2 linked regions of the Homo sapiens genome follow. The protein of the gene in region 1 purifies or fractionates together with the protein of each later gene. This does not show direct contact. Each region holds a gene or a part of one and is shown in the gene's direction. Other genes may lie near its edges.

Region 1 (4,024 bases):
TGAGACGATCTCATTGTAGTTTTGATTTGCACTCCCCCAGTGATTAGAAAAAATGTTGGCTGGGCCTGGTGGCTCAGATCTATAATCCCAGAATGTCGGGAGGTAGAGGCAGGAGGATCGCTTGAGCCCAGGAGTTTGAGACCAGCCATGGCAACATAGTGAGACCCTGTCTCTAAAGAAAAAAAAAAAATTAGCTGAGTGTAGTGGTACTACACTCAGCTACTCAGGAGGCTAGGGTGGGAGGATTCCTTGAAGCCGGGAGGTTGCCGCTGCAGCGAGCTTTGGAGTCCAACCAAGTGGACTCACGCTACTGCATTCCAGCCTGGGCAACAGAGTAAGACCCTGTCTCAAGGAAAAAAAAAAAAGAAAGAAAGAAAGCAAAGCAAAGAAAAAAATTTGGGCATTTATTCGTATACGTATTGGCCATTTTGTATGTCTTTGGGTCTTTGGCCATTTTTTAAGTGAGATTATTTGTCCTTTTACTGTTGAGTTGTTTGATTTCCTTATATAGTCTGGATATTAGCTCTCCATCAGATAACTAATTTGTAAATATTTTCTCCTATTCAAGAGATTGGCCGGGCATGGTGACTCACGCCTGTAATCCCAGCACTTTGGGAGGCCAAGGCAGGAGGATCACCTGAGGTCAGGAGTTCAAGACCAGCCTGGGCAACATAGTGAAACTCCGTCTCTACTACAAATACAAAAAAATTAGCCGGGCCTGGTGGCACATGCCTGTAGTCCCAGCTACTCAGGAGCTGGGAGGCTCAGGCAGAAGAACTACTTGGACCAGGGAGACGGAGATTGCAGTGAGCCAAGAAAAGGCTGGGCACGGTGGCTCATGTCTGTAATGCCAGTACTTTAGGAGTCCGAGTCTGGTGGATCACCTGAGGTCAGGAGTTCGAGACCAGCCTAACCAACGTGGTGAAACCCCATCTCTATTAAAAATATAAAAAAATTAGCCGGGCGTGGTGGCACGTGTCTGTAATCCCAGCTAGTCTGGAGGCTGAGGCAGGAGAATCGCTTGAACCTGGGAGGAGGAGGTTACGGTGAGCCGAGATCGCGCCATTGTACTCCAGCCTGGTTGACAAGAGCGAAACTCCGTCCCCCACAAAAGAAAAGAAAAGAAAAGAAAAGAAAAAAATAGGTTGTCTCTTCATTCTGTTAATTGTTTCTTTGCTATTTAATTAATTAATTAATTAATTTTTTTTTCCTCTTTTTTTGAGACGGAGTCTCACTCTGTTGGCAGGCTGGAGTGCAGTGGCACGATCTTGGCTCACTGCAACCTCCGCCTCCCGGATTCAAGCAATTCTCCTGCCTCAGGCTCCTGAGTAGCTGGGACTACAGGTGCATGCCACCACGCCCAGCTAATTTTTGTATTTTCAGTAGAGACGGGGTTTCACCATGTTGGCCAGGATGCTCTCGATCTCTTGACCTCGTGATCCGTCCACCTCAGCCTCCCAAAGTGCTGGGATTACAGGGGTGAGCCACTGCGCCTGGCCAATTCATTTATTTATTAGAGAGGATATGACATTGTTACCCAGGTTGGATTGCAGTGGCGCAATTTTGGCTCATTGCATCCTCGATTTCCCAGGCTCAGGTGAACTTCCCACCTCAGCCTCCCCAGTAGCTGGGACTATAGGTGTGCACAACCACGCCCAGCTAATTTTTGTATCTTTTGTAGAGATGGAGTTTCAACATGTTGCTGAGAATGGTCTTGAATTCCTGGGCTTGAGCAATCCACCTGCTGTGCCAGCACCTGGTCTTATTTTAATTTTATTTATTTATTTTGAGATTGAGTCTTGCTCTGTCGCCCAGGCTGGAGTGCAGTGGCGCGAACTCAGCTTATTCTAACCTCTGCCTCCTGGGTTCAAGTGATTCTCCTGTCTCAGCCTCCCAAACAGCTGGGACTACAGGCATGCGTCACCATGCCCAGCTAATTTTTGTATTTTTAGTAGGACGGGTTTTCATCATATTGGCCAGGCTGGTCTCAAACTCCTGACCTCGTGATCCACCCGCCTCGGCCTCCTGAAGTGTTGGGATTACAGGCGTGAGCCACCGCGCCCAGCCGTATTTTTATTTTTTAATAAAAAAATATTTTTTTTAGAGACAAGGTCTTGATCTGTTGCCAAGGCTGGAGTGCAGTGGTGAGGTCAAAGCTCATTGCAGCCTCAAAGTACTGGGCTCAAGTGATGCTCCCGCTTCAGCCTCCTGAATAGCTGGGACCACAGGCATGCTGGTTATATTTAAAAGTAAAACACTGGCTGGACATGTTGGCTCATGCCTGTAGTCCCAGCACTTTGGGAGGCTGAGATGAGTGGATCACTTGAGGCTAGGAGTTCAAGACCAGCCTGGCCAATATGGTCTCTATTAAAAATACAAAAATTAGCTGGGTATGGTGACGCGTGCCTGTAGTCCCAGCCACTTGGGAGGCTGAGGCACGAGAATCGCTTAAACCCTGGAGGCGGAGGTTGTAGAGGGCCAAGATCACGTCACTGCAGTCCAGCCTGGGTGACAGAGCAAGACTCTGTCTTAAAAAAAACAAAAATTAAAATAAATAAAATAAAATAAAAGTGAACCACTAAAAATCAGATTGCAGTGTCTTTATGCATGAGCCAGGGCTTGTTTGACCTCATGGTGACCTTTAATTTGGGAAAACCTGCCGGGCGCGGTGACTCATGCCTGTAATCCCAGCACTTTGGGAGACTGAGGCTGGCGGATCACCTGAGGTCAGGAGTTCGAGACCAGCCTGACCAACATGGAGAAACCCCGTCTCTACTAAAAATACAAAATTAGCCGGGCGTGGTGATGCATGCCTGTAATCCCAGCTATTTGGGAGGCTGAGGCAGGAGAAGCACTTGAACCCGGGAGGCGGAGGTTGCAGTGAGCCGAGATCACACCATTACACTCCAGCCTAGGCAACAAGAGTGAAACTCCATCTCAAAAAAAAAAAAAAATGCCAGGTGGTGCAGTGGCTCACGCCTGTAATCCCAGCACTTTGGGAGGCCCAGGCGGGCAGATCACGAGGTCAGGAGATCGTGACCATCCTGTCTAACACAGTGAAACCCCGTCTCTACTAAAAATACAAAAAATTAGCCGGGCATGGTGGCGGGCACCTGTAGTCCCAGCTACTCGGGAGGCTGAGGCAGGAGAATGGTGTGAACCCAGGAGGCGGAGCTCGCAGTGAGCCGAGATTGCACCACCGTGCTCCAGCCTGGGCAGCAGAGCGAGACTCCGTCTCAAAAAAAAAAAAAAAAAAATTGGGAAACCCCTACCTGTCTGTACCTGTAGGTCTTTTCTCTGGGGTCTGGAAGAAGAATCCTTCAATATCTTGCCTTCTGGTAATCTGAGAGCAGGGCGAGAAAAGGAAGATCAGAGTTCCACCCTTAAATCTGTAGGTTTTCACTCCCCCACTCTCCTTTGCAGTCCCGTGGAGTCTCCATCTGAGCCCTTTCCTAGTCCAGGCATCCCGATGTTGGTGGATGGCCCATCTGAGCGGCCAGCCCTGTGCTTCTTGCTGTTGGCTGTGGCAATGTCTTTCTTCGGCTCAGCTCTATCCATAGATGAAACACGGGCGCATCTGTTGTTGAAAGAAAAGATGATGCGGCTGGGGGGGCGGCTGGTGCTGAACACCAAGGAGGAGCTGGCCAATGAGAGGCTCATGACGCTCAAAATCGCTGAGATGAAGGAGGCCATGAGGACCCTGATATTCCCACCCAGCATGCACTTTTTCCAGGCCAAGCATCTCATTGAGAGAAGTCAAGTGTTTAATATTCTAAGGATGATGCCAAAAGGTAAGGTTTGGAAAGGGGTGGCTTGGGGTGCTGGGAAGGTAGAGGGACTCATCTTGGGGCTATTACTGTGCTTGTGGCTGTTGCTATTCTAGATGGAGCAGAGAAAGCCTCACTCAGCTGTTCTGCTCCTCTGTCCTTATGGGTAGACTAGGAAAAGGGTGTTGAAAACCAAAACCCCTGCTTCCTGGGGGACTCGCAGACAGTCAGGATTGGAAAAGCATCCAGCCCTGAGA
Region 2 (3,500 bases), on another chromosome or scaffold:
CCATCTCAAAAAAAAATAATAATAATAAATATAAAGATTTCTTGCTTAGACTGTAATTGACTAAAACTTTGTCACTGTTAAATTGCAATGTAGTACAGATTATATACAACTCTAGGACTGTTCAGAATCACAGCAGATTATTGCAATGAATAAAACATTGCCTCTATCCTTAGCTCTGTCAAATGAGCCTCTGCCAGCTTTCTTGCCAACTCTTGAATATTTTCTAAATTTTTATAAATTCATTCATATCCCATCATCTGTTATTTGATGGGCAGTGGGGTTAGGCTTAGGCAAGATGAATGATAGGGTGGTCTGGTTGGAGCAGCATTCATCGTTTAATAGGCAGCCCACACGTAATTGAATTTAGAGTGATGTTACACTTAAAAGGGTTTTGATGCCCTTGAGCAAGACGTTTGTGTAATAGCAAGTAGTAGAAAACCTCCACAGAGTTTCTGGCATGGATGAAAAAGAATGGGGAGAAGAATGCATTGATGTAAGTGAAATTTCTGAATTGTTTGCTCTGAACTTGCAATTTAACCTGTTTCCTAGTTTAATGTGTCTGTTATAGTGGGTTAATCTCCATCTTCTTGGAAAGAAATCTCATTTCTTTAGCTCTCATGAAATACACGATTCTACAGTTTTGGGTATTCCAGCTGACATATATGTGTTGCTATAATGGATTTGTCTTTCATTGTACTGATAATGCTTCTTTCATCTACATTTATTTTTATGGGGCCAGAACCAGGTATGTTATGTTTTCTATAAATAGATTACTTTAACTTTGAAAACCTGTGACTGAGCATTGCAAATTGCATTATGTTAAAACTATATAAAATTGGTTCATCTTCTCATACGTGATTTTTTTTCCCTTAAGACAAATATGGTCTCTTTAGAAGGCCTTACCAAAGTAGTTGATCCTTCTCAGCTAACTCCTGAGTTTGATGGCTGCCTGGAATACAACCACGAAGAATGGATTGAAATCAGAGTTGCTTTTGAAGACTACATTAGCAATGCCACCCACATGCTGTCTCGGCTGGAGGAACTTCAGGACATCCTAGCTAAGAAGGAGCTGCCTCAGGATTTAGAGGGGGCTCGGAATATGATCGAGGAACATTCTCAGCTGAAGAAGAAGGTGATTAAGGCCCCCATCGAGGACCTGGATTTGGAGGGACAGAAGCTGCTTCAGAGGATACAGAGCAGTGAAAGCTTTCCCAAAAAGAACTCAGGCTCAGGCAATGCGGACCTGCAGAACCTCTTGCCCAAGGTGTCCACCATGCTGGACCGGCTGCACTCGACACGGCAGCATCTGCACCAGATGTGGCATGTGAGGAAGCTGAAGCTGGACCAGTGCTTCCAGCTGAGGCTGTTTGAACAGGATGCTGAGAAGGTAAAGACGGGGGAGGCTAATGCCTCAGTGGACATGGGGGAAGCCAGCGCTGGTGGGTTCGGGTGGAAGGAAAGAGAAAAGGTGGAGAATGGTAAGGCTATACTCACCGTGTGTGCTCTAAACCAGCGAGAGTCATTTCAGAAATGGCACTGAAATCTGTTTTCCGGTTTTACTCGTTGTGCAATACAGTGCTGTTTTAGAAATTTTGAGTTCAAATTACTTATTCTTTGGTCTAGGATGCCTGTAAGATAGGAATGATATTTTCACTTAAAAGAGTGAACATTTCGGCCGTGCTCACGCCTGTAATCCCAGCCCTTTGGGAGGCCGAGGTGGGCTGATCACCTGAGGTCAGGAGATTGAGACCAGTCTGGCCAACATAGTGAAACCCCGTCTCTACTAAAAATACGAAAATTAGCCGGGTGTGGTGGCACGCGCCTGTAATCCCAGCTACTCAGGAGGCTGAGGCAGGAGAATCGCTTGAACCCATGAGGCAGAGGTTGCAGTGAGCCAAGATCGTGCCATTGCATTTCGGCCTGGGCGACAGAGTGAGACTCCGTCTTAAAAAAAAAAAAAAAAAAAAAAAAAAAAGTGAAAATTTCACAGGGTTATGTTATTGACAAAACACCATTCCAATCTATTGAGTATGTTTTTTAAAATCAAGATGAGTAATGTGTTAAAAGTAACAGTTTCTGGGTAATATAGTTGGTAATCACCTCTAGTCTCATGTTTTATTCTTATGCACCAGGCAGACCAACTGGTCAAAGTGAATCCTTATCAATTACTGGCTAATTGAATCTTAGCAATGTGGAAACTGGGCACTTACCCATAGGTATGTGTTGCAAGCCATGAACATGGGTGAATTAATCATTGAGTTTTATTGGAGCTCATTGAATTTTATATTACATGGACAGGAGAATATTTTGTAAAGTAAAAAACCACATTAGAATTCTTGGATGTAAAAGGACTTTTCAAAAGGTGATAATCCAGTGTTTTTATTACTAAAGCTTTTAATGTATCTGTCAGTGTTCTTTTGTTTTAAGTAGCACCTTGTCTAAGAGACTGGAATACCTTCTTTTCAATTACTGGAAGACCAGGTTACTGTCACTGGGATTCTGGTTCAAGTCATGGTAGCAATGCTAATTGATGATAGTCATCTATATTTTCTTAAATGTTTTCATTGCAAATGTCTTAATTGACATCCTTGTCCAAGTAACATCTATATTGAACCTTAAGGGAGATGTCATAGTTAGTTTTTCCCACCTTTTTTATAGTAAATTTTATGTTTTTGCAATCTGCACAGGTGTCTGTGTACTTCTTGATCAAACAGTGGAATCTTTTAGTCATTGATATTTCTGTCAGTAACCTGTGGGCACAGCAGAACCCATCCAGAGACCCATAAGTTCCTAATTTCACCCTAACGGGTCTTTAATTGAACCTCACTGTGGCAAATTAAGTAGTTCAGCGTGGCAGGGAGACTGGGCTGAGAGTCAGAGGATCAGAGTTTTTAATCAGCCTGGGGGATTAGAGTAACTCTCTTTACTTATCTGCTTCTTAATTCCTTCTCTGTAAGAGGAACACATCAGATAAGATTTTCTGGTAGGTCCTGCAAGTTCAGAACTGCTGACTTGTTCTTCGAAGTAAAGACTCTTCTGAGAGAATCAGACAGCGCTTGAAGTTGTCCAGGGAAGGAAGTTGCCCTTTCTTGGTACTGCCCCATCTGTGGGCTTGTGTCAGTAATTTCTCTTTCTGGAGTGATTGCGGGTTGTCTTTTTCCTTCCGGTAGATGTTTGACTGGATCACACACAACAAAGGCCTGTTTCTAAACAGCTACACAGAGATTGGGACCAGCCACCCTCATGCCATGGAGCTTCAGACGCAGCACAATCACTTTGCCATGAACTGTATGGTAAGACACTCGGAACAGCTGGACCCTGGCATGTGACAGTGTTTTAGCAAATGGGAGGCATTTGGCAAATTGTATGCTAGGGCTTTCAAGGGGCCTTCGGAGTGGCTGTTGATTGTAGCAGCTGACCTTCACATGGAGGGTGTTCCCTAGGGTTCCATTGTCTCACTATCCCACATTTTAAGTTTTAAACAAAAATGAAAACAAGCA

What was found.
Region 2: the proteins of ADA2 (region 1) and TRIO purify together in Homo sapiens (affinity purification with mass spectrometry; one large-scale study listed by BioGRID and IntAct). This does not show direct contact.

Annotation. Positions count from the first base shown.
Region 1 is NC_000022.11:17,209,123-17,213,146, reverse strand, and holds part of ADA2 (adenosine deaminase 2 isoform a precursor), read left to right. Parts: intron 1-3,423; 5' UTR 3,424-3,469; coding exon 3,470-3,791; intron 3,792-4,024. UniProt on the Homo sapiens protein: Adenosine deaminase that may contribute to the degradation of extracellular adenosine, a signaling molecule that controls a variety of cellular responses. Requires elevated adenosine levels for optimal enzyme activity.
Region 2 is NC_000005.10:14,289,842-14,293,341, forward strand, and holds part of TRIO (triple functional domain protein), read left to right. Parts: intron 1-874; coding exon 875-1,387; intron 1,388-3,170; coding exon 3,171-3,293; intron 3,294-3,500. UniProt on the Homo sapiens protein: Guanine nucleotide exchange factor (GEF) for RHOA and RAC1 GTPases. Involved in coordinating actin remodeling, which is necessary for cell migration and growth. Plays a key role in the regulation of neurite outgrowth and lamellipodia formation.